4 linked regions of the Homo sapiens genome follow. The protein of the gene in region 2 purifies or fractionates together with the protein of the main gene of each other region. This does not show direct contact. Each region holds a gene or a part of one and is shown on either strand. Other genes may lie near its edges.

Region 1 (7,032 bases), on a different chromosome or scaffold from region 2:
GCTCATCGCGCTCCCAGATCAAAGCAACGCTCTCGGGGGACTTCCGAACATGCTGGTCCAAGCAGTTGACTGTACAAAAAGAGGGTTTGCGGATGTTACACTTGGTGCTTTTTGAGTGAGAATTCGGCCAGGTTGAGGGGTTGGAGCGGGTCTAGTTTGCTGTGGCTCTCTCTTCTTCCACTGACAGAGACCCTGTCCTCATCAGTGATGATGTTTCTACCCCCTTGCAAGGAGAAGGGTGAACAAACATGATCTCAGAGGTACAAGGTGATGTCCTGCAAATATTTTGAAGTGGTTGCTTCACACCAGTGGACCCAACCCTGGCTGCATATTGGCATCTCCTGGGCCACCCCTAGAGACCCCATCCAATGGGTCCTGGGCCTTCAAAGCCTCAAAGCCCCCATGGTTGGTTCTGATGTGCAGCCAGGGCTGGGCACTGCAGCCTAAGCTGTTGGAAAGAACACTCAGTGCAAACAGGTTGTTCCTGTTTCAGGGCTTGGCTCCTGCAGTTCCCATGTGCCCAGTGCTGACCTGCCCCCAAGGTTAAAGGTGCAAGAAGGGACGAGGACCCAACTCCCCCACGTGTTCCACGAGCACCCAGTAAACCAGCCTTGTTCCAAGAAGTGGCTCGTGATGGGGAAATGTCCTGGTTTTGCAGAAGGCTCTGCTCCCTCCCTCTCCATTACCCAAGCTCCCACACATGACCCTCCGGCAGAAACAGCTCTGTGGCACACCGTGAGACTGAGGATTAGCAGCACGGGGCCCCTCCGCTGGCAGGCTGGTCACTACTCATTAGATTCCAAAGCTGAGCCCCTTCTGGCAACCCTCAAGCCAGCTCTCCTCACTCACTGGCTTATCGGAGGGTCCCCAGGTATGCAGGGACATGAGCCCCATGAATGGTTTTGGGGGCAGCAGCACCCACCCACCTGGTCTCTCAGGGTCACCCCTGTAGCCTGTTTGTAAATTACACCTCAAAAAATGTAACAAATGTAGACAGATTCCAGGAAAAAATTACTAATACTAGTAAGAGACACAGGAAAGTTCTTTGAACTACTATTAACAGAAAAATAAAAGAGAAGACATGCCCAAAAAATAGAAGAAAATAAAAACAAGAAGACAAACTAAGAAGGGGATCAGTGGCAGACCTGAATTTACACAACATCTCTGTGTGTGTTGGGGAGCTGGGGGTGCTAACCTCTGTTCACTGTGGTCATGCCAAGTGTAGCATTAACCCCACAATGTTTTGCTGGGTGTTGGGGAGTCTCTTAGGAGCAAAAAGAAGGAGCATACAACCCTGAGATGGTTTAACCCAACCAGTCCTGGGTGCCAATCCTGATCAAGGCCCCACACTGAACACTGAGGGAAATGCCAGGGCAGATTCGAAGCCCCTGCCATGGGTGCAGGAGACAGATGCAAACGTAAGAAACATGCAAAAGTGACCAAACACACAAGGCCGGTGGCGGCAGGCTCATGACACTTGTCCAAACAGGGCACTGGAGCTGAATTTACCCTGGGAAGGCAAACCCTGGGAAGTCAAGAGCAGCCTGGGGCTGAAACAATAATTACTGCAAGAGCCTCCACGGAGACAGCGCCCGCACCACCAGCATCTCCCATTATGGATGGGAGAACAGAGGCCCCGAGAAGTTAAGCTGCCTGGCCAAGGTCACACAGAGGCAGAGCTGGATTCAACGCAGGCAGATTGGCTCCACAGTCTGTCCCACCGCCCCACCCTCCAAAGTCCCCCGGTAACAGTCCAGTTCTTCACCAGGCGGTGAAGAACTGCTCTATGCAACAAGTGGGAGGGAAGCGAGCTTTGCCGGTAGTGGGGGAATTGGGGAGGAGGGATGAATCAGGCTTGGTCTTACAGACGGAAGACAGAACAGTTGAGAAGAATAGTGAGGCCAATTCAGGCAGGCGACAGGAACATGTAAACCCTGAAGGAGATGGAAAAACAACACAACTGCCAGGGAGAAAATTAATACACGGGTACAGCAGATATTAGCCAACGTGGTCCCTAGGCTGAGTCCAGCATACAGTTGTGCTAACCACCCTGACCAGGGTGTGCAGGCATGCGTGTGTGAGTCCAGTCCAATATTTAAAAATCGAGAGCTTTCACATGAAAGCCATGGACTTCTGGCTTCTGAACAATCAGCAGGAGACCATCCCTACACAGAGAGTCCTACACCCCGCTGCCTGCCTGTCACCTCCAGTGACTCTATGATGCTATGACAAGCCTGGGAATGTCTAGCTGAGGATCGACACTGTCTGCACCCACCATCCCCCCCGGGAGCTGGTCACAAATGCAAATCTTCAGCCCCACCCAGACCTGCTGAGTCCCAACCAGCCTCATAAGAAGCCCCAGGAGATGTGAACCCACTCTCATATCTGAAAAGCTCTGCCTGACATACTTGCTCCACTCCAAATTTGACCCTGGAGCCCCCCGGAAGAGTGGCCTGCCCAGGTGTAGATGAGCAAACGCCCTCTGCATGGCCTGGTGACCTGCCCAAGGCCCCAGCCAAGATGAAGCAGGAAGGGCTCGAACCACGCTGGACACTTCGCCTTGGCATTCATCTCATCGCCTCACCTGCTCCCACAGCAGCCAGGGCACCAGGACACTCTTCTCAGAAACAGTGACTGCCCAACTTCAAACAGGCCCTCACAGCCTCCCAGCCCAGCAGGACATCCTGCACCATTTTATACCAAGCAGGAAGGCAGAGGTGAGGAAGGTGGAGAGGGGCAGGCCAGCCCCAGGATGGACAGCACCCAGGTGCGGCTGGGTGGCCCGTGAGATAAGCCCTGTGTCCCTGTCTTTCCAGGGCTGACAGGTGGCCTGGGTCCAGCAGATCAGAACAGAGCCCCAAACACAGTGTCCCCCAGGTGCCTCGCCACATGCAGAGGTGCTCAAAAAGTGGCCACCAAGGCCCCAATGACCTGCCTCTCCCTGCTGACCGGGCCACATCTGGTGAGCTCCCCTGCCCTCAGGCCTTTGCTGTGGCTTCTCCCTGCCTGGGGCACTGTGCCCTCCTCACACCCACACTGCAGCTCTCAGCCCAAGGCGCTCACTCTCCCGAGCACCTCACTGTCCCAGACCCTGCGCATCCCCCAACTCTTCCAGATGCTCACTGCCTGCTGCGCTCCCTAGGGCGAGGGCTGAGTGTCCTGCTCAGGTCTGGGTTCAGGTAGCCTGGTCCAGAGCACAGAGCTGAGGAACAGACCACTTGCGTCCTCGAGCCAAAGGGTCATATTGAGGTGTAACTGGCACCAGGTGGTCCCCTCATGCCCAAGGGAGGGAGCAGACCTCTTCTTGTCTTTGTGGCTTCATCCCTTAAGTAGAAGACATTCTCTTTTTTGGCCCAAATCAGTGCTTCTCAACCTTGAGTGGCATCAGAAGTCCCCAGAGGACGTGTTAGCTGCAGCCAGTGTGCCCCGTCCCCGTTCTGGGCATCTGCATTTCTAACAAGATCCTAGTGATGCAGCCGCTGCTGGTCCTGGGACCCGACTCTGACGATGTGTGCACATGGACCTACATGCACATCCCCTTTCTATGCAGATGCAAGATTTCCAATGGTTTTCTTTTTCCTTTGGGACAGGGGTGATTACACATACTTGCCAGCCTCATGAGCCACTGGTTGGCAGCCTGGAGTCACCACTAAAAACTCAGGGTCTAAAGTCCAGCCCCTGTCCAGCCACTCACTAACCACAGACAATGCACATATCATTTAATCCAAGCCCATTTCCTAATCCTTGGAGTGGGTATAATGATCCTTGGTCTGGGTGGGACTGGAAGGACTAGGTGCCATTGGGTTGTTTCTGGCTGTGGGTCAGATGGAGTCAAGGTGTCCCCCAAGAAGGCAAACAGAACAACCCTCCCCCATCTTTGTTCTGGCCACCATGGCTGGTGCTCAGACCACACAGGCACCTGAAGAAAGCTCCATGTGGGGTTTGGGGGACAGTGGCCCTAACACCCATGTGCACATGGCTCTTCGCACATAGTTATGGTTCCTGCTAGTGCTTCAATTTCAGGATGAAAAGGTAGAAAGGAGGGGGAGGAAGGAGGTAAGAAGGTGAGGAAGGATGGAAAGGAGGAAGGAAGTGGGGAAGAGAGGGAGGAGGAAAAGAAAGTTTAAAAAAAAATCTGCCCAAAGAAATGGGCAGTGAGACAAGAAAATTCCATTTCTCAGCATTTCCAAGAAGAGTTGGGCAAGGACCCATGGCAATTTAAAGTGTAGCTGAAACTCCACCTCCTATTTCCGGCCTTTCCCAAGTTTCCCAGCACATGATGGATGACCTGTCCTTCGCCTCTCAGAGGCCCACACCATTTCACACTGCCCCATGCTCCCTGGTGGTCCCCATTACAGGGCACAATGCCATTCCCCAAGGGCAGGGACTGTGTCCCTAAGATTCCTTTATCATGTAGACTGGCGTTGGGAATTACATCACAATTCCCCTCCCACCTCAGTGTGGACTTACTCATTTACTGACTTATGGTTCATCTCCTCATTAGAATGTGGGCTCTGTGGTATTGAGCATTTTCTGGATTATTCATTGCTGTACATGAATTGGAGCCTTTATTTCCAAATCTGTGCAATGGGACCACCAACCACTTCATGTTGGTGCCATGAGGATGCGACAAGCCATGCGGAGCTGAGGGCCGGCCAGCCAGGGCGCTCCATCTCGCTCACAGATGCCCAGGGCCCCACCCAGGGCCTAACACAGCTGGACGCAGTCGGCCAATGCCCGTGGCTGGGGCAGGGGTTTGGTATTTTGTTTTAAAAAGGCATTATAAGAGTATTGGGATTTCCATTACAATCCTGACACACACGTACGAATTTTCAAGTACTCTTGTTGCTTATTTAAATACATCCCTCACACTCACACACCCTAACTGAAAGTGGAACCCAGCATACAGAAATTCAATTTGAATACGGAGTTACTATTCACAATGAGCTTTTTTTTTTTTTTTTTTTTTGAGACAGGGTCTCACTCCATTGCCCAGGCTAGAGTGCGCTGGCGTGATCTCAGCTCACTGCAACCTCCACCTCCTGGGCTCAAGGGATCCTCCCACCTCAGCCTTCCAAGTAACTGGGACTACAGGTATGCACCACCACGCTCGGCTAATTTTTTTTTTTTTTTTTTGAGATGGGGTTCTCACTACGTTGCCAGGCTGGTCTCAAACTCCTGGGCTCAAGCGATCTGCCCACCTCAGCCTCCCAAAGTACTGGGATTCCAGGCATGAGCCACGGCGCCTGGCCCACAATGGACTTTCTTTTAATAGCAATCTTCCCTGGCAGGCTTTGAGATATTACGTCAGTCACAAAAATTGTTTTGGACAATTTTCCCAAAGCATCTGTTATTTAAAGTAAGTCGTGCCCCTGACAGCTGGGGAGGACTTGGATTCCTCGGGAGGATCCTCCTCCTAAGATTAGGGGTTCCTTTTTCATGTAGAGTTCCCTGAAAAACCTTAGAAAAGTTACTTTAATCACTGGAATCACTAGGAGGAAAATGAAGCACAGGCGCACAGCGTCTTGCCGCTGTCAGTGTCCTGCCTTCTGAACGATTAGAGGCATGCCACAGAGAGGAAACTACAGCAAACACAGAGGAACTACAGCAAAAGGGCCTCTGTTCCTGCAATTAATCTCCAAAAAGCATCCAAGAAATTTCCCAGTGCTCAATGCTTGGTTACAAAGAGGATTTTTACACTCTTGCTTAAGAGTACACACACTGAAAAACATCACTTAAAATTGGGGGTTTTAAAAATAGAGCTTAGCTGTGTGTTTTGAAAGCAACACATGTCATTACCCTCTGGTTCTGCATTTACAACTTCCTGACATCTTGAGTTGATATGCCACAGGGCAAAAAGAGCTGCAGAGCCCTACAAAGGACAGAGCCAAATTTCACAGGTGGGAAAGAATCCCTTTTAGAACCTGGCTCTCCAAAGAACCTTCTGCAAGGCAGTTTTACACAATAGAAGCAAGTCACAGAAGGGCACAGACACTCTGTCTACCCTGCCCAGTGAGTCTCAGACACCATAACCTCAACTGGCTATTGGAGTTGTGGGATGGGCAGGATACTGTGGAGCTTTGAAAGCAACCTCAGCCACCTGCATGCTCTCCGAAGCCTATTCCCCACCTATCCCAGGCTGATCAGATGCAAGCCCATGTGGTCCAGTTCAGATGAAGCTCAGCTCTCTCAGCAGCACTGCCGAAGGCCAAGCACAAGGTCACAGCCTCCCCACATGCTTCATTAATAAATAACAAATAGTCAGTGACTGGGGATGTATAATGTGTTAAGAAAGTGCTGAGTGCCTTACAAGCATTTCCTCATTTCATTCTAACAGCCCTGGGATGGGTGTGCTGATAGATACTCCCATGGATAACAAAACAGGTGCAAACACTCAGGTCCCCTTCCCCAGGTCGGAAGATGCCTGATAACATCTGTGCTGGTCTCTTGGACCTCTGGTTGCAGGAAATTGCCTGGGCCCAGCCACCATGCTGTGACAAGCCCCAGGAGGTGCTTTGGGCCACAGTTCTGGCTGAAGCCAGCCTGCAAGTTGTCCCAAACAAGGCTCCAGACTTGGGAGTGAGAAACAGGCAGATGACTCCAACCTCAGACACTGAGGAGCAGGAGCAAGTGTTAAATAAAATGTATAGGAGGCCACTGGTCTGGACTGAGCTGCATGAGGCCCAATAGATCACACAAAAATGGAGTCACTCTTGCTAAAGTGCGGTGTCACCAAATGGAAACTAAGTTGTTTATCCGACCTTCTAAGAAACAAGGAGAGTGAAAGATAGCTAAATCTCCAAACAAGCTGGCATGATAAGGGAGCTCCTTCCACTTTCACCTTTACAACAAAAGTAGCTTTGAAATAACCAGTCCACTTTTTGTTCTCCATGTCTGCATCCTTCAGCCCCTTCTGTCTATAAAACCATCCTCCTCTGTTCAGCTCATCAAACATTCCTTCTGTTTTATGGAATGGGGTGTTTCCCAATTCTATAATCACGAATAAAGTGAAGTAAGGTCTTTAAACTAAAT
Region 2 (4,121 bases):
AGCAGGCAAAAACCCACCTTGAGCAGAAGATGGCACAGAGGAATGGCGGTGGGAATTCTCAGTCTGGTGAGCTGGACAATCCAAGCAGAGGGCAGGCTCTACGTCTCAGAAAGACAGCTTTTCTGTCTTATCTCCTATGAATAAGTTTCGAGCAGCCTGGGAGTTGAATGATCTCTTTGAACAGATGTTCCTGCTGCTTCCCCATCAACCTCCCTCATACACATGTACGCCATAAAGTTTAAATTTACTATCATGGTGGCCATAGACAATGTTAGGTAGCTCCATAAAGACAGACGGGGTGTTTCATTCTTAACTGTGATCTTAGTAACTAGCACAGTACTGGGCACTTAGTAAATATCTACTGATCTAAATAGTGTGGTTTGAGGCCTCTTGTTCCTGGCTAAAAATCCTTGGCAAGAGTCAATCTCCACTTTACAATAGAGGTAAAAATCTTACAATGGATATTCTTGACAAAGCTAGCATAGAGACAGCAATTTTACACAAGGTATTTTTCACCTGTTTAATAACAGTGGTTTTCCTACACCCATAGGGTGCCACCAAGGGAGGAGTGCACAGTTGCAGAAACAAATTAAGATACTGAAGACAACACTACTTACCATTTCCCGTATAGCTAACCACCAGTTCAACTGTACATGTATGTTCTTATGGGCAATCATGCCAGGGGTTAGGCAAAAACCTGTGTTCTGAACCAAAGAAGACTTAAAACTGCTCCCATAATTTGTGAATTTCTTGAAATTTTGCGGTTTTTTGAAAATTTTTTAACAACTGGTAATCAATTTATGAAAACAGTTGACTTAAGCATTTGCAATGGTGACTTCCATCTCAACTCCTGGCTCAATACTGATGGAAGTAATCTGCTTAACTATCTGAGGACTGCGCAAGTCAATGAGTCGCTTGTGGATTCTCATCTGGAAACGATCCCATGCCTTAGAACCTTCACCGTAAGTTTTTCTTGTAGTGATTCTCAAAGTCTTGGTAGGCATTCAAACTGGTCCTTTCACTGATTCTTTTCCTTTGCTCCTCAGATCAAGTCAGCACACACCTTATCCAGGGATTTTACGTTGCAACTCGTTAGAGTGATATGAATTCGGTGAATTGCCACCTCTGACTCCACGGGTGTTTTTCTGGTATGTTTAAAAGCCATGGCTGCTGCAAGGCTTCCTAGCCAGCTTCCTGACAGACTTGGTCCTCAGGCAACAGCAAAGAGCAGTGAGTCAGGAGCAGGAGCAGGTGGACCACAGCTCCGCACCACCTATGACTGTGTCTTCCTCAAAGAGAAAATGTCTTTTAATGTCGGAAAATATTTATACACTTAGAAAAATCCATACACAAAGAATAAAGCAACTCTCCCATTTGCTACTGACATCAGATCCCCAGTTTAGAGTCAACCACAGTAACACAGAACTCTTATACTAGCATGAACATATTTATTCACATACCTTTCTAAAACACGAATGGTAGATACTACATTTTGGTTTTCAAACATAGCTTGTTTTATTATAAACAAACATCATTCTCTGGAAATTAAAAGCTTTGATAATTTCAAATTATTTTTAACAATCAGTCACTAACGGAATGCAAAAGGCAATTTTATTATTATACATTAAAACGTAAATCACATTTGAGCACGAACACTAACAAATAGGCTCATTTGTCATCTTTATGCCGTTTCTCTTCACTGGTTTCTTCCATATACAAAATAAATTCTTCTTTGTCATAACCCATTAGATGGATATAGTCTTCACGGTTTGGAAAGAGCACTGGATTAACTAACAGTGATTTTGTTTTAGCATAAAATGTGGTAAATACATGTTTAGCATCTGGAATCTTCACATCATTCTGGTGAAACACTGTACTCGTTTCTGCAAGCATAGCATTGTAGGTAATGGCTTTATAAGTGTCTGTTGTGGCCTCATGGTACAATCGAATGACATAGCCTTTTGTAATAAAGTGAAGCAGCACTGGGGTGATCACCGTAAAGCTTCCCATGATGCCATAGAATATGATTTGAATAGGCAGAGGCACACTTTCAGAAATAGCATTATTTTGTGTAAAAATGTATGGCAGAAATGTAAGGCCAATCAGACTCGTAGAATAAGAGAAACATTTCACACCTAAATGGGAAAAAAAGAGAGAGGATCAATACTTTTAAATTTTATAAAAGAATCAATCTATCCCACTAATTCTTCCATTTTTCTTCTTACTGTATCAGCTCAAGACAACAAAATCAAACCATAAATACAGTGCTTATTATATTCTAAGCTCTGTTTTAAGGACTTTACATATTTTGACTTCAATGTCCCTGCTACTGACCATTAGAATGCACTGCCTCTCCAGGCAGGAAATCTGCTTTAGGGTTTAAGTGGCCCTACCTCAGTTCCACAATAAAGTAGTTAATATTACTTAAAGATCCTTACTAATATTGTACTACAAAAGTTGATTCAGATAGCAGATTATCAAACAAAACTCTCTATTAACAAGCACTCCAGTATATCTAACATAAAATATTCAAACATGGGAAATTCTATCAGGCTAAGTGCCCAGGATTAAAACAGCAAATCACCAGAGAAATAAAACCAGTGGTTAAAAAACATATCGGACGGCCAGGCGCATTGGCTCATGCCTGTAATCCCAGCACTTTGGGAGGCTGAGGCAGGTGGGTCATTTGAGGTTAGGAGTTCGAGACCAGCCTGGCCAACATGGTGAAACTCCCATCTCTACTAACAATACAAAAATTAGCTGGGCATGGTGGCAAGTGCTTGTAATCCCAGCTATTCAGGAGGCTGAGGCAGGAAAATCCTTGAACCCAGGAGGTAGAGGCTGCAGTGAGCCAAGACTGCACACTGCACTCCAGCTTGGGAGACAAAGCGAGACTCCATCTCAAAAAAAAAAAACAGAAACATATGGGAAAGGTATTCAATTTCTTTAGTAAGGAAAGACATTCAAGTTAAAACAATGAGATAAGCAGCCTGGCCAGCATGGCGAAATCCTGTCTCTACTAAAAATACAAAAATTAGCCAGGCTTGGTGGCATGCACCTATAATCCCAGCTACTGGGGGTGCTGAGGCAGGAGAATTGCTTGAACCTGGGAGGTGGAGGTTGCAGTGAGCCCAGATTGTGCCACTGCACTCCAGCCTGGGCAACAAGAGCAAAACTCCGTCTCAATAAATAAATAATAAAAAATACAAAAAAAACACTGAGATACCATTTTTACCTATTACCTTAGAAAGATTAAAAATAAATGACTTCTAGCAGAGTGCAGTGGCTCATGCCTGTAATCTCAGCACTTTGGAAGGTGTAGGCAGAAGGACTGCTTGAGACCAGTTTGAGACCAGCCTAGGCACCATAGGAAGACCTGTCTCTACAAAAAAAATTTTTTTTAATTAGCCAAGGCTGGTCTGATGGTAATGAGTTATCAGAACTTAACACTGGCATCACTAAAGTTGGTATACAATGTCCCCACTGCTAAATTTGACTAGCTTAAAAAAAAAAAAATCAGCCAGGTGTAGTGGCACATGTCTGTAGTCCTAGCTATTTGGGAGGCTGAGGTGGGAGGATCACTCGAGCCCACAAGTTTGAAGTTGCAGTGAACTATGATCACACCACTGCACTCCAGCCTAGATGACAGAGACCCTGTCTCTAAAAAATAAAAATTATTTTTAAAAAATGGCTTCTAAACTGTATACTTCAAAATGATTAAAGTGAAAAATTTTATGTTTATCTAACCACAATAAAAAATGACTTAAAATGTAAATTTACCTTACCTTTAATTTATAATTTTAATACGATCCTAATAAAAAATACCATCTGTTTGGAAAATAAAGTTGAGATCCTAAACAAGTTGATTATAAAGTTTATTTGGAAAAACAAAAGCAGCAAAAAATAAAAAAATAAAGCAATGAGGGGAAGTTACCCCTTCGAAATATTAAAACATAATAGAGGCCGGGCGTGGTGGCTCACGCCTGTAATCCCAATACTTTGGGAGGCCGAGGTGGGTGGGTTACTTGAAGTGAGGAGTTCAAGACCAGCCTGACCAACATGGTGAAACCCTGTCTCTACTAAAAATACAAAAATTGGCCAAGTGTGGTGGTGCATACCTG
Region 3 (7,032 bases), on a different chromosome or scaffold from region 2:
GGAAAAGAAACAGGCATATGGGAAAGGTGTAATTACATTCCCATTGGTAGTGTAATAATATTCCATGACAGAAAAATATAGCCACCATATGTTGTATTCTGTAAGTTAAAAAAAAGAATTCCAAGCTTCTGGGACTATGCTCAGACTGAACTTGAAAATGAAAAATCCATTTATATACAGTGTTCCTAATGGCTTATTGTGGTAACATCAAGCTAGCTTCAGCAGCAGAGAACCTGGTTTCATTAAGACAGAGACTTTTAAGCTGCATGTAAAAATCGTAAAAATCCAATAATTCAATATGGCTGCCATTCTCAAATGAATGATGATTATTTCTGCTTTGACCATGGTTCTGTTTCAATAGGACAGGATAAAATTTACCGCAAAAGTGTATTTCTTAGAAGATATATATATATATATCCTCCCTTCTAGAATTTTACTTAACATTTGAGTAACAACACTTGCTTTTCAGAATGAGATGAGGGAATAATAGAACATTTCTAGATTCACTCTCCCCACATAAGTTGGTTTACCTGATTGCCAGACTCTCTTGGTGTGGTCTGTTCTGCCAGTGTGCTCAGCTTTTAAAATGTTGAGTCCTTGTTCTTGTTGACAGATTGAGGATGCACTGAAGGCAGCAGACACCATTGGCTACCCAGTGATGATCCGTTCCGCCTATGCACTGGGTGGGTTAGGCTCAGGCATCTGTCCCAACAGAGAGACTTTGATGGACCTCAGCACAAAGGTATGTATTTTTGTAGACAATATTCTTACCAACCAAAAAAACTGGCTTGATAGACCTTTTCAACTAGAGAAAGTTATGTAGATGAGAAATTACATTTTCTTTATTAAATCATGATCATGTTCTCCAAAAGCGTATTCCAAAAGATGACACTTTTGCGAGAGCATGCAGTGCAACTCTTCATGCCAGGATGCAATGATAAACCACATGGTTCAAGGTAAACCAGTGGTCACTTTACCTCAAATTCCACTTTTATAGTACAATCTATTGACTTCAAGGAGATGAACTTAATTCAACTCCTTCTTCCTTTGTTTCAAAATCTACTCTCAAATATTTAAAATGCTAAAATATGTTTTAGTGGTTAAGGAAAAATAGGACATAATGTCTCATTTTTAATTTTTTAGAAATAATGTGGCTGGCATGGGTGACATCCAGAAAGTGAAACAAAGCACATTGAGTAGTTTGACTTTACTCAAAATTAAGGTGTCTAAAATATACATGGTATAAACCACTCAATACAGTAAATGACTGAACTCCACCAACTGCCATATACTCATAAAAACACGAGAGATTTGAGGGTTTATAATTTATTTTCTATCAAAATCACTTTAACATATTAGGAACTACTTCTTTCTTTGCATGTTAGAGGAAAACTCTTGAGAAAAGTAAGCTATGCTACAAAAACTAAATTAGAGACTAATGCAGAAAATATGCTCCAGGAAAACAGAGACTTTTGTCTATACTCTATTTCCACAAAATAGAACAGTGCCTGGAAATACCAGGAGTTCAATAATGTCTTTGAAGAATGATTACACGTGCAGCCAAGAAACCTGTGTAACTTACATGGCAGTCATAGAAGTGAATTTGACAGAATTACTGTAAGGGCTATTTTGGGAATTATTTAGGAAATAGCTCACGGACAGCTTATTGCTTCATCTTTACTTACTTTTTGAACTGAAGTGAAATGAGACCCTTGAATTGTTGACATAGAATTTTGAAAACAGATAAGTACAATTCAGCATATTTAAATAACTACAATGGCAGACTTACATATAAACAACTTGGGTTTCGTTTTTCTAAAGTTGTGAAAATTACAAAAAAGGGAAACATACCTCACATAAATGTTTCTTGTTACCATTCTGGACATATGAATCACATATTTAGAGCAAAAACATGTTTTTGAAGATAGAAAGTTTATTTCCTCTAGCATGTTAGAGGCTCCAAATATTTTCAATATTAACAACTTCATAACTGCCAATTGTGACAGTGTATACATATTCTCTATTAATTTTTTTACTCTATAAGAAACCAATCTGAAGACTGAACTTTTCATGTAAGAAAGTTTATAATAAAGAGAATTTTGGAATGAAATAGCTTTCAATTATTTATATTGTACTCAAATAATCAATAGTCCCTTAAATGGTTTTTCTTGTTGAAAAAAACCCTCGCTCTTCCCTTGAGAATAATTAGTCATATCATTATGTCCTAAACAATCCCCTATTCTCTTGAGGTTATAATTAGCACCATTAAAAGCTGCATTAACTTATCCAGGTCCCTAAATTAACTTTTTACATAAAATCGAAGACTTCAAAAAATAAAAATAAAAATAAGCTGAGGAAACAGGTGAAGATAATTTCAAATTTTCCCTGTATCTAAATATCCATTTTACTTCATTAGAATGCAAAATACTTTTCCAAATTTATACCCTTTGTTTCCTAGATTTCTTCTTTTAGCAGGCAACCGGAATGATGAATTAATCATTATTAAATTGTTAACATTGGCTACTGAATTTTCTAACCACTTTGAGAACCTCATCGTGGGCAGCTGTGGGGACAAATGTGTCACATTTTCATTTGCACGTGCTGGAGCCTGTAGTGATGACTGAAGTTTAAAAAAATCCTATTAAGGCACATTACAGAAAAACTTACATTAAATTATTATTTTAATGCCTATTAATAATTTGAAAAAATTCAAACTGCTTTCCCTTTCACTGTCAATCCAAATCAAATATATTATAAGACAATAAGACATTTCTCCCTTGGATTATCAGCCACTGCATGTCCTAAGGTCAAAGATTACCACTTTCCTATTTTGGGTTCAGTATTCTACCCATTGTGGGTGTGCCGTAAATATGAAATTATAATTATGCTAATTCATATCTGTCTAATCAGGCATACATGATATATGACTCAGAGTATTTAAGCATTTAGGCAGTGATTAACCATAATAATAGTCCCATATGATTCTTCTAATTCTCAAGTTTTATATGCCATCTTGGCTAACCGTTTACAACCATCATCATCTCCTTTCTCCTCCTCATCAACATCAACTAACTTTTATTGTGTGTGTCACTGTACAAAGCACCCTCAGCTATTTTAGAGAGAGCCAGAGTCTTTAGACTTATTTTTCCATATTTATTCACACTTATCACATTTTCTGGTTTCACAGAAGCCTAGCTGCTGAAATAATTTCATTTCCCTCTGCCTGATTGCTCAATTATTTTCTCTTTTTCCTAAATTAGTTTGATTTACTGTCATATCAGCACTTTGAATGGCAAGCCTCAATAATGTAAATCAAGCATATTCACTGCAGGATGCTATTCCTAGTACCTCACTGATTTTCTGACACATTGTGCCTTCTGTGCAGGGGAGAATGGAGACGGGGTTTGAGAGTTCAGTGCTGACCAGGATTTATGCCAGGGTATTTTGCCAAATATCCTTGTTGAAGCCAGTGCTTTTTCTTACTCTTTGATATCTTTTGTCACCAATTTCTAGGCCTTTGCTATGACCAACCAAATTCTGGTGGAGAAGTCAGTGACAGGTTGGAAAGAAATAGAATATGAAGTGGTTCGAGATGCTGATGACAATTGTGTCACTGTCTGTAACATGGAAAATGTTGATGCCATGGGTGTTCACACAGGTAGGCAAAGTATCTTCAAGAACTATAGTAATGCTTTCAGTTCATGTCTTTGATGGCCAAGGCAGTCTTTATAAAGTTGTTGCCTTTAAATTACTATTTCTAGTTGACAGACTAGTGATAACATTTTGGACAAGCATAGTATTTTACAGTATTGAAAATGTTCTCACATTTAATTTGATCTTCACACAAACCCTGTGAAGTAAGGCGGATATTACACTGAGTTAATTGAGGAAGAGCCAAAGGTAAGCAATATGGTAGAAATAAGATCCATAAAACTTAGTGTTGAGAAATAAGAAGGGAGGTTGAGACAGTTTAAAGCAGACTGAGCTGGTAATCACCCAGTAAATGAGAAAATAGGCACAATAATAGAAATAAGTTTTTCAGAAAAGTACACTAGTTAGATAAGAGGGCAAAGATGATAACTTAGGATTTAAAAGTGCTAAATTTGGGGTGTGAGCAGAGCTGTCAAAAAAGGGAGTTGAGAATGTGGAGATGGAATTTAAGAAATAAAATAGAAATAAATAAGTTGATACAAAGACACTGGAAACTGTTGGCATAAAAGGGGAAATTGAAGTTGTAGGCATAGACAAAGTATTCAAGGACATAGGTATAGAAAGAGGAGAGAATAGGGTTGAACTTTGAACTCTGGGAAACATTTAGATTTATAGGGCAGGGGAAAGAGGAAGTATTACTGTTGAAGATAGAAGGGGAGAATAAAGAGTTAAGAGGAAAATCAGGTAGTACTGTACCAACTAAGCCAATGCAAGAACTATTTTATAAAAGAGCTTTGTTTTTGGCAGTATCAAATGCTATGCAAGACCAAGACTGATTATTTAATTTGGCTCTTTTGGATGTCCAAGAGAACAATTTCATTGCAAAGTCAGTTCTGTGAGCTCTATTAAAAGGAATTACATGGTATCAAGTGGTAAGCAGAATTGGCAAACTTTCAAGAAGCTCATTCATGTAAAGAATGAGAGAGAAGCTTTGTATGGTTGTCTGGCAATGTTGGGAGAAGACTTCCGGAGGCAGTGAAGATCTGAGCGTGTTTGAAGGCAGAAGGGATGGAGACTAAGATTGCAGATATAAGGGGCTATGATGAGGGAAGTGAAGATGGAAAGGGATGAGATACAGAAAGCCAGCTGATGAGCCAGTCTGAGTGATAATATTCAATGAAAGGAAGAACTTCAGAAATAATTTGAGATGAAGAGCAGGGAAGTTGAAGTCAATCTAGTAAGTAGACGATTGAAGCCTTGATAGCTACTTACTAGATAGATGAACTTGGGAAAGGTTAGAGAGGTTTCTAAAAGTACTGTATCAGAGTAATATGGGCAAAACAGGAATTGGGGGAATACCTGATATCACATATATATCCCAACAAACCCTCAGACTGTTCTATGTCTTGCATCGTGCAAGTAGATGGTTAAGTCGCTGAAGTTGGTTATTTCAATATGCCACCAAGTAATGAGTGCTTCTTGGATATATAGGTGACTCAGTTGTTGTGGCTCCTGCCCAGACACTCTCCAATGCCGAGTTTCAGATGTTGAGACGTACTTCAATCAATGTTGTTCGCCACTTGGGCATTGTGGGTGAATGCAACATTCAGTTTGCCCTTCATCCTACCTCAATGGAATACTGCATCATTGAAGTGAATGCCAGACTGTCCCGAAGCTCTGCTCTGGCCTCAAAAGCCACTGGGTAAGACCAGAATAATTGACCATGGGTTTGCAGATTCTTTTCAGATAGAAATGAAAAATTGACAGATAGTGGAAGACTGTACTGCATTTACAAACTATGTTCCCTTTTTCTGTATGTTAGCTCCAAATCATTTATAGCACCCTGAGGACATGATTATTAATGAGCTTGTTGCCAGATTGAGGTAAATTATATTGCTAGCTGGCTTTGTTTGCAGGCTAATCTAAACGAATCAAAATCTAGGTGGCTAAAGCAGGCTGTGAAAAATCTGCTTCCTAATTGCACTTTGCAGATGTTGTTAAAAGTGCAGATTAATCCTTAATTTTAGTCTTCAGCTGTTTTCTTCAGGTGTATAGCCCTATAGCAAATAGTTGACAGAAAATATAGCTCACTTGACTCAAGCATGCAATACACATTACTTTTATTTTATCAAAACTCCACAAGACTGAACAGTGCGGAATTTTTTCACAAGTAACTGTTACAACCAAACAAATACATCTGCTGTCTATGTAACAGCCACTAGCAGGCATGATTGGAGGGAAAGGTAATCAAAACCTTTGGTTTCTAATAATATATTTAGCACCTTACACTTAAATTATGGCATTTAAATGAACACAATATTTACTTCTTTATATTTTTTTTACGTAGTTCCACAGCACTGCGTGGAGTGGTGAAAGGCATGTTGCCCTGTACAGGAGTCACAATTCTGCATTCTCACTTGGTTCTTCTGTTGACCGTGTGATTTTGAGCACATCACTCATTGTCTTTATCAGTTTCCTCATTTGTTAGGTGGAAGTTGTACTAAAGAACTCATTTTTAATTCTATAGTTCTATGAATTATTTTCTCAAACAGAATAACCCAAACTGACATTCTGGATGAAGATAGTCAAGTTCTCAAAGTGTTAGTTTTGTAAGGAGCCCAAAGTTCAAAGATAATTTGGAGACAGAGCAAGGACCCAAACTTGAAATGCCTACATTTTCTGACCATTATGTACTCTCTTGTACTAGCTAACTCCACTGTATTCTTAGGTACAGATATGTATATGTACAGATATGTATATATTTTCTCAAAAAATATTTTGCAGATTCTCATCTTAGTGGAGGTTAAATACAAATAAAGGTTAAACTTTATTTATCAATAAAGCTATCGATTTTGGGTTGAAGAGGTGAAGGTTGAGCGTTGTAGCAATGCATGTAGTGCACAGAGAGTAAATTCTCCTGTGACCTGTGCCTCTATACTTTGTATCATGACTCCTATTATTCCGCAAGTGGCTACTAAATATTGATGCAGAACAGAGAATCAAGTGTCTTATACCCTGAAGTAGAATAATACCAGAAATTTTAAGAAAGACCAATTTATGTTTTGGTCTGTTTTCAATAATTGCTCGAAGAAAAAAAAATAAATTTGTCTTCTTTTTATAGCTACCCATTGGCATTCATTGCTGCAAAGATTGCCCTAGGAATCCCACTTCCAGAAATTAAGAACGTCGTATCCGGGAAGACATCAGCCTGTTTTGAACCTAGCCTGGATTACATGGTCACCAAGATTCCCCGCTGGGATCTTGACCGTTTTCATGGAACATCTAGCCGAATTGGTAGCTCTATGAAAAGTGTAGGAGAGGTGAGTCCTTGGTTTATTACGCTTTTCTTCTTGTTCTCAGTTATTTTGTTAAATTTGTGAC
Region 4 (7,923 bases), on a different chromosome or scaffold from region 2:
ACAGCGTGTGCATTAGAAACTATGTAACTAGGCAGTAGTATATACATATTATGTATATGACTATGTAGTTGAGCAGGACTAGTATTTCACTGGAGCGGAGATGCAGTAGACATCTACACATCTATATGCGTCTATACACTCATTGCCCTACAATGCACACTCAGATGCTGCCATCCATGAGGAGCTGCTGGGAAGACCCACAGCTTTGGCAGGAGAGTTCCGTGAGCTAGCTTCCTCACGAGGCTGCTGCTTTCCCACACCTTTCCATTTCAGCTGATGTTACCTTCTTGATCCTGAAGGAGGGGGATCATCTTTCCTGATCTTTATGAGGTATTTTCTAGCTCATAGCATCGTCTTCCCTTTACATTCTTCAGATAGGCTTCTGATAAGTTTCAAGGCCTATTCTGGGCAGATGTATCTATTAAATGGTTGCTTGTTGGTAAAGCTAGCTTAAGACTGATTCGGTTTCAAGGCTACTGTTGACCTAAAGCTTTCTTTTGCAATCTTCTAGTGAAGACAGAAGAAGGGAGAGAGGGAAAAAGAGGGAGAAAGAGACAGAGATCCCACTTAACTGTAATCCACTATCCCAACAATGTTCTGATCATCTATTCCATTTTTCACAATTATCTAAGCTGCAACTTAAAAGCAATGGCTTAAACAAGATTAAGAAGCTGCTTCCCCGGAGCTTGCAGTGAGCCGAGATTGCGCCACTGCAGTCCGCAGTCCGGCCTGGGCGACAGAGCGAGACTCCGTCTCAAAAAAAAAAAAAGAAGCTGCTTCCCTGATTCAAGGTAGCTCTATACCAGCTTATTGTCATGTCTATAATTCTGCCACCAGAGATTATTTTCTGTGAGCTACTAAAGATTCATAACATAAAAATAATGTAAACTATCTGTGCTGTTAAGATTTTTTTGTTTTTGTTTTATTTGAGATGGGATGTCACCCAGGATGGAGTACAGTGGTGTGATCATGGCTCACTACGGCCTGGAACCCCTGGACTCAGGCCGTCCTCGCCCTCCTCATCCTCCCAAGTAGCTGTGACTACAAGTGTGTGCCACTACGCCTGGCTAATTTTTTAATGTTTTGTAGAGATGAAGCCTCACTGTGTTGCCCAGGCTGGTCTTGAACTCTTGAACTCAAGCAATCCTCCCACCTTGGATCCCACAGTGCTGAGAAACTGCTGAAAATACAGGCATGAACCAAGTCTCCTGGCAAAGAGTTTTACTTCTATAAGCCATTAACAACTCTAACACTCTCCAGAGTGACATACTTGAGGATAGTTCTTTAGACAATAGCTAAGCTTTGAAAGGGAAGACAGGAAATGGGTCTATGGTACTATCCTGAAGAGCCCTGGAGGCCTAAGAAAAGAAAAACCAGAAGAACAAGAAGAACATTAACATTACTTACACCAACTTTTTTTTTTATTTTTTTATTTTTTATTTGAGACGGAGTCTTACTCTGTCGCCCAGGCTGGAGTGCAGTGGCGTGATCTTAGCTCACTGCAAGCTCCGCCTCCTGGGTTCACACCATTCTCCTGCCTCAGCCTCCCGAGTAGCTGGGACTAACAGGCGGGACTATAGGCGCGTGTCACCACGCCCGGCTAAATTTTTTGTATTTTTTAGTACAGACGGGGTTTCACCGTGTTATCCAGGTTGGTCTCGATCTCCTGACCTCGTGATCTGCCCGCCTCGGCGTCCCAAAGTGCTGCGATTACAGGCGTGAGCTACCGCGCCCCGCCAACTTCCAACAACTTTCTTATGTTTCTCTGGGGCACTCCTACAATTAAGTAACTAAAAAGGGCATCTACAATATTTCTGGAAAATAAAAGCAAGCAAACGTTCATATAAATGGTTGAGTTTGCATTTATAGACTGATCTTATGTACCAGATTGTGCTTAAACCTCATTCCATGAATTAATTCATTTAGTTTTCACAACCCAAGGTACTCGTATCATCTCCAAGGTGAGGAAATTAAAGAAGAAATATTAAGTAACTTACCCAAAGTCACACACCTAGTGAGTAGCTAACTAAGACCTCAGCCTTGACTGCAGAGTCTGTGCCCTTGAACACTAAACTGTCAATCTTTCCAGAATGATGAAGGATGATAACGATGAAGCAAAAGAAGACAAAGAAGCAAAGCTATCTACAAGCCTGAGGGTTTTTTCACTGCCAGAGTTATTGCCACCAAAGCTTAGAGCTCAAAATTTGAAACAGAGCTGGAGTCAGGTGAGCTAGACTGAGTCATCTGATAGCGTTGTTCAAACTTGGGTACAAGAGTTTTTGACAAAATAATTTCCCAGCTCTGTGGAAGGTACATTTGCTCTTCTTGACAACTTCACTCTTCTAACAATGAGAAGGAACTCCAGGAGTCTTTCTCTGAACTGGACACCTGATGGGGCACAGCTGAACTGAAAAATGGCTTTGAGGGCATCCCGGCCCCATTTCTTACTAGCTGTGTTTCGTTGAGGAAGTCGTTGATCCCTTTGGGCTTCCCCGGAACCGGATTATAACAACGCTCCCACCTAAGGGGTGCTGCGAAAGCCCGATGTAAACGGCTACGAGCTGCAGCGACGGCGAGGGGAGCCTGGAGGATGGCGGGCCCAGTCCTCAGAAATGGAAAAACAGAAGCCAAAGGCGCGCTGAAGCGTGGATGTGCGGAAGCGGGGAGAAAGGGAAGGGCTGGTGGGGATGTCTTCCTCCCGACGCCGTGACTGCCGGCAGAACCCCTCCGAAAGTGCCTGGGGTTTTCCTACCGTCCTCCCCACACCGACCCTGGGTTCCGCCGCACCTCCCACCGCTCACGCGGGTCCGTGCACCCCTCGCTCCCGCCTCTGCCCACTGAGCCATGGCCCCTCCACCCACCTCGGCGGCAGGAGCAGGCTCGGGAGACGATGCCACCGGTTCCTCTCCGCCGCCACCAGCAGCACCGACACCGCAGAGGCCGCCGCCATGTCCCTGGAGCCCGGCCACTCCGTGACTCCCCAGTACAGAGGCAGCTGCGTCCCACACGCCAAACCCGTTCCTCCACTACGAAGCCTCGTGACCCCCGCCGGCCACCGTCGGAGCCTGAGCCTACCTTTGGGCTGATCCAAGAATGTGAGGGCGTCTCCACGAACACCAATCAAAGACCAGAGCCCGGCTTCAGTAGCGACGATTGGGCAGTCTGGCCACGTGCTCGTGGGGGTGTGGCCTTTGTTTCTGCGTCCCCTGGGGCCTGCTCTGACTAAGGCAAGGGTTTTCTCCATCCTCCCCCTCTTGGTTGCCTGTCACTGTTTCTTCCTGCATCCCGTGGGGTTTCTTCGCTCTCGTCACCTTCTGGGAGAAGAACCCTGGGGAAGAAGCCAAATGCGGATGGACAGCAGGATACACAATTCTCTAGTGCTCTCAGGGATGAAAAAATAAATAAGCTAAAGTGAAAATCTTTAAACCACCTGAGCTTAAAACAGGTATTCTAACTGACTATTGGGAAAAAGAGGAAGTCAAAGAGCAAACTGAGGAACATCTAGAGAATAAAGAAACTGTAAACACTACATGTAGATGCTTCATGAGGAAAGCAGGAGGGAGAAATTAGGGAAGATAAAGGAATAAATAAATGAATTCAGGAAACCAGTGTCAAAGGACTAATAAACCCACAGGTTCACAAAAAATAAAATAGTTATCTAATCAGAAATAGAGAAAAATGCACATTTGACATGATTTAAAAAACAAGCAGGGGAAAATCACAGACACAGGAAACAAATTATAGATTTGTAAGATGCTAATTTTGCTTAACTTCAAGTGAACTTAAAACTCTGGATGAAATGGATGATGTTACAAGAAAATACAATTTATCAAAATAGATCCTGGAAGAGACAAAATTTAAGCAAACCGTTACCACAGAAAAAATAGAGAAGTTTATCAAAGAACTATCCTTGCTACCACCATGGCCCACTTTCACCTTCACCTTCACCCCTAAAAGTTACAAAAGCCCTCCATGTCTTGCAAGAAAATTCCACACAAATGAGTAATTGACTCAAATGCTATTAATTCTGTCCCAGAGCACAAAAAAGATGGAAGTCTTCCAAACTCTTTTTAAAAAGTAAACATAACTTTGATACCAAAATCAACAAAGATATCACGCACACACACACGACAGACCAATTTCACATGTAAGTATCAGTGGAAAAATTCTAAATAAAATATTAACTACGCTGGGTGCTGTGGCTCATGTCTTGTAACCCCCCATTGAGATGTGACAGCGTGCTGGCAGTCCTCAGAACCCTCGCTTGCTCTCGGCACCTCCCCTGCCTGGGCTCCCACTTTGGTGGCATTTGAGGAGCCCTTCAGTCCCCCACTGCACTGTGGGAGCCCCTTTCTGGGCTGGCCAAGGCCGGAGCCCACTCCCTCAGCTTGCAGGGAGGTGTGGAGGGAGAGACACGAGCGGGAACTGGGGCTGTGTGCGGCACTTGCGGGCCAGCTGGAGTTCCGGGTGGGCGTGGGCTTGGTGGGCCCCGCACTCGGAACAGCCAGCCAGCCCTGCTGACCCCGGGCAATGGGGGACTTAGCACCCGGGCCAGTGGCTGCGGAGGGTGTACTGAGTCCCCCAGCAGTGCTGGCCCACCGGCGCTGCGCTCGATTTCTCGCCGGGCCTTGGCTGCCTTCCCACGGGGCAGGGCTCGGGACCTGCAGCCCGCCATGCCTGAACCTCCCACCCACTCCATGGGCTCCTGTGCGGCCCAAGCCTCCCCGATGAGCGCCACCCCCTGCTCCACGGCGCCCAGTCCCATCGACCACCCAAGAGCTGAGGAATGCGAGCGCACGGCGGCGCAGGACTGGCAGGCAGCTCCACCTGCAGCCCCGGTGCGGGATCCACTAGGTGAAGCCAGCTGGGCTCCTGAGTCTGGTGGGGACGTGGAGAGTCTTTATATCTAGCTCAGGGATTGTAAATACACCAGTCAGCACCCTGTGTTTAGCTCAAGGTTTGTGAATGCACCAATCGACACTCTGTATCTAGCTGCTCTGGTGGGGCCTTGGAGAACCTGTGTGTCGAAACTCTGTATCTAACTAATCTGATGGGGACGTGGAGAACCTTTGTATCTAGCTCAGGGATTGTAAACGCACCAATCAGCACCCTGACAAAACAGGCCACTGGGCTCTACCAATCAGCAGGATGTGGGTGGGGCCAGATAAGAGAATAAAAGCAGGCTGCCCAAACCAGCATTGGCAACCTGCTCGGGTCCCATTCCACGCTGTGGAAGCTTTGTTCTTTCGCTCTTTGCAATAAATCTTGCTACTGCTCACTCTTTGGGTCCACGCTGCTTTTATGAGCTGTAACACTTATCACGAAGATCTGCAGCTTCACTCCTGAGCCCAGCGAGACCACGAGCCCACCGGGAGGAACGAACAACTCCGGACACGCTGCCTTAAGAGCTGTAACACTCACCGCGAAGGTCTGCAGCTTCACTCCTGAGCCAGTGAGACCACGAACCCACCAGAAGGAAGAAACTCCGAACACATCTGAACATCAGAAGGGACAGACTCCAGACGCGCCGCCTTAAGAGCTGTAACACTCACCGCGAGGGTGTGCAGCTTCATTCTTGAAGTCAGTGAGACCAAGAACCCACCAATTTCGGACACGCCATCACTTTGGGAGGCTGAGGTGGGCCTCCCAAACTGCTTAAGCCTAGGAGTTTGAGACCAGCCTGGGCAATATAGTGAGACCCGCATCTGCACAAACATTTTTTTAAAAAAACTGGGCGTAATGATGCACACTTGTAGTCCCAGCTACTCGGGAGACTGAGGCAGGATCACTTGAGCCCAGGAGTTTGAAGCTGCAATGAGCTCTTATCATGCCACTATACTCCAGCCTGGGTAACAGAGTGAGAGAATGTCTCCAAAAAAGAAGCAAAAAAAATAACTGAAGTATCCTGTAGCATGTGAAAAGAATAACACACTGTAAATAAGCAAGGTTTATTCCAGAAGTATAAGGATGATTCACTATTAAGAAATCAATTAATAAAATGAATATTAAGAGTTTAAAAGAGAAAAACTTATATTCACAGAGGCTTAATAGGTCATTGACAAAATCTGACCTTCATTCTAGATTTTAAAACTCAGTAATTCAAGAAGTGATTGGGACCAGTGATTAGCCCTCTGGAAAAAAAAGCTGGATCCCTGCTTACTTCTTACACCTAACACCAAAATATTCCAAGTAGATGAAAGATTAAATATAAAAGATGAAAGCATAAAAGTTCTAGAAGACATTATGGGAGGTCTTAGAGCAGAGAAAGTTTTTTTTTTTTTTTTTTTTTTTTTTTTTTTTTTTTTTTTTTTTTTGAGACGAAGTCTCTCTCTGTTGCCCAGGCTAGAGTGCAATGGCATGATCTCGGCTCACTGCAACCTCCACCTCCCAAGTTCAAATGATTCTCATGGCTCAGCCTCCCGAATAGCTAGGATTACAGGCATCCACTACTGCACCTAGCTCATTTTTTGTATTTTTAGTAGAGACGAGGTTTTGTGTCTGGAATTGGTGGGTTCTTGGTCTCACTGACTTCAAGAATGAAACCGCAGATCCTCGCGGTGAGTGTTACAGCTCTTAAGGTGGCGCGTCTGGAGTTTGTTCCTTCTGATGTTTGGATGTGTTCGGAGTTTTTTCCTTCTGGTGGGTTCCTGGTCTCACTAGCTCAGGCAGGAGTGAAGCTGCAGACCTTTGCAGTGTTACAGCTCATAAAGGCAATGTGGACCCAAAGAGTGAGCAGCCGCAGGATTTATTGCAAAGAGCGAAAGAACAAAGCTTCCACAGTGTGGAAGCAGACCCGAGCGGGTTGGCACTACTCGCTCTGGGCAGCCTGCTTTTATTCTCTTATCTGGCCCCACCCACATCCTGCTGATTGGTAGAGCCCAGTGGTCTGTTTTGACAGGGCACTGATTGGTGCGTTTACAATCCCTGAGCTAGACACAAAGGTTCTCCACGTCCCCAGCCTGGAGACGTGGAGATTAGCCTAGATTAGCTAGATACGGAGTATCCACACAAAGGTTCTCCAAGCCCCCACCAGAGCAGCTAGATACAGAGTGTCAATTGGTGCATTCACAAACCCTGAGCTAGACACAGGGTGCTGATTGGTGTGTTTACAAACCTTGGTGTATTTACAATCCCTGAGCTAGACGTAAAGGTTCTCCACGTCCCCACCAGACTCAGGAGTCCAGGTGGCTTCACCCAGTGGGTCCGGCACTGGGGCTGCAGGTGGAGCTGCCTGCCAGTCCCGCGCCGTGCGCCCGCACTCCTCAGCCCTTGGGTGGTCGATGGGACTGGGCGCTGTGGAGCAGGGGGCGGCGCTCATCGGGAAGGCTCGGGCCGCACAAGAGCCCACGGAGCGGGGGGAGGCTCAGGCATGGCGGGCTGCAGGTCCCGAGCCCTGCCCCGCGGGGAGGCAGCCAAGGCCCGGCGAGAAATCCAGCGCAGCGCCGGTGGGCCGGCACTGCTGGGGGACCCAGTACACCCTCCGCAGCCGCTGGCCCGGGTGCTAAGCCCCTCATTGCCCCGGGCCGGCAGGGCCGGCCGGCTACTCCGAGTGCGAGGCCCACCAAGCCTACGCCCACCCGGAACTCCAGCTGGCCCGCAAGCGCCGCGCGCAGCCCCGGTTCCCGCTCGCACCTCTCCCTCCACACCTCCCTGCAAGCTGAGGGAGCCAGCTCCGGCCTTGGCCAGCCTAGAAAGGGGCTCCCACAGTGCAGCGGTGGGCTGAAGGGCTCCTCAAGTGCCGCCAAACTGGGAGCCCAGGCAGAAGAGGCGCCGAGAGCGAGCGAGGGCTGTGAGGACTGCCAGCACGCTGTCACCTCTCAGTTTCACCATGTTGGCCAAGCTGTCTCGAACTCCTGACCTAAACTGATCTACCCGCCTTGGCCTCCGAAAGTGCTGGGATTACAGGCATGAGCCACTGTGCCC

Evidence for each region.
Region 1: the proteins of TMEM70 (region 2) and ACSS1 purify together in Homo sapiens (affinity purification with mass spectrometry; 2 studies listed by BioGRID and IntAct, with this or other methods). This does not show direct contact.
Region 3: the proteins of TMEM70 (region 2) and CPS1 purify together in Homo sapiens (affinity purification with mass spectrometry; 2 studies listed by BioGRID and IntAct, with this or other methods). This does not show direct contact.
Region 4: the proteins of TMEM70 (region 2) and MCCC1 purify together in Homo sapiens (affinity purification with mass spectrometry; 2 studies listed by BioGRID and IntAct, with this or other methods). This does not show direct contact.

Annotation. Positions count from the first base shown.
Region 1 is NC_000020.11:25,048,113-25,055,144, forward strand, and holds part of ACSS1 (acetyl-coenzyme A synthetase 2-like, mitochondrial isoform 1 precursor), read right to left. Parts: intron 70-7,032; coding exon 1-69. UniProt on the Homo sapiens protein: Catalyzes the synthesis of acetyl-CoA from short-chain fatty acids. Acetate is the preferred substrate. Can also utilize propionate with a much lower affinity. Provides acetyl-CoA that is utilized mainly for oxidation under ketogenic conditions.
Region 2 is NC_000008.11:73,979,169-73,983,289, reverse strand, and holds the end of TMEM70 (transmembrane protein 70, mitochondrial), read right to left. Parts: exon of another isoform or gene 4,119-4,121; intron 2,136-4,118; coding exon 1,669-2,135; 3' UTR 507-1,668; downstream 1-506. UniProt on the Homo sapiens protein: Scaffold protein that participates in the c-ring assembly of mitochondrial ATP synthase (F(1)F(0) ATP synthase or complex V) by facilitating the membrane insertion and oligomer formation of the subunit c/ATP5MC1 through its interaction.
Region 3 is NC_000002.12:210,601,589-210,608,620, forward strand, and holds part of CPS1 (carbamoyl-phosphate synthase [ammonia], mitochondrial isoform b precursor), read left to right. Parts: intron 1-613; coding exon 614-742; intron 743-3,513; coding exon 3,514-3,658; intron 3,659-5,142; coding exon 5,143-5,353; intron 5,354-6,772; coding exon 6,773-6,971; intron 6,972-7,032. UniProt on the Homo sapiens protein: Involved in the urea cycle of ureotelic animals where the enzyme plays an important role in removing excess ammonia from the cell.
Region 4 is NC_000003.12:183,096,491-183,104,413, forward strand, and holds the start of MCCC1 (methylcrotonoyl-CoA carboxylase subunit alpha, mitochondrial isoform 1 precursor), read right to left. Parts: upstream 3,007-7,923; 5' UTR 2,951-3,006; coding exon 2,862-2,950; intron 2,754-2,861; exon of another isoform or gene 1,998-2,753; intron 1-1,997.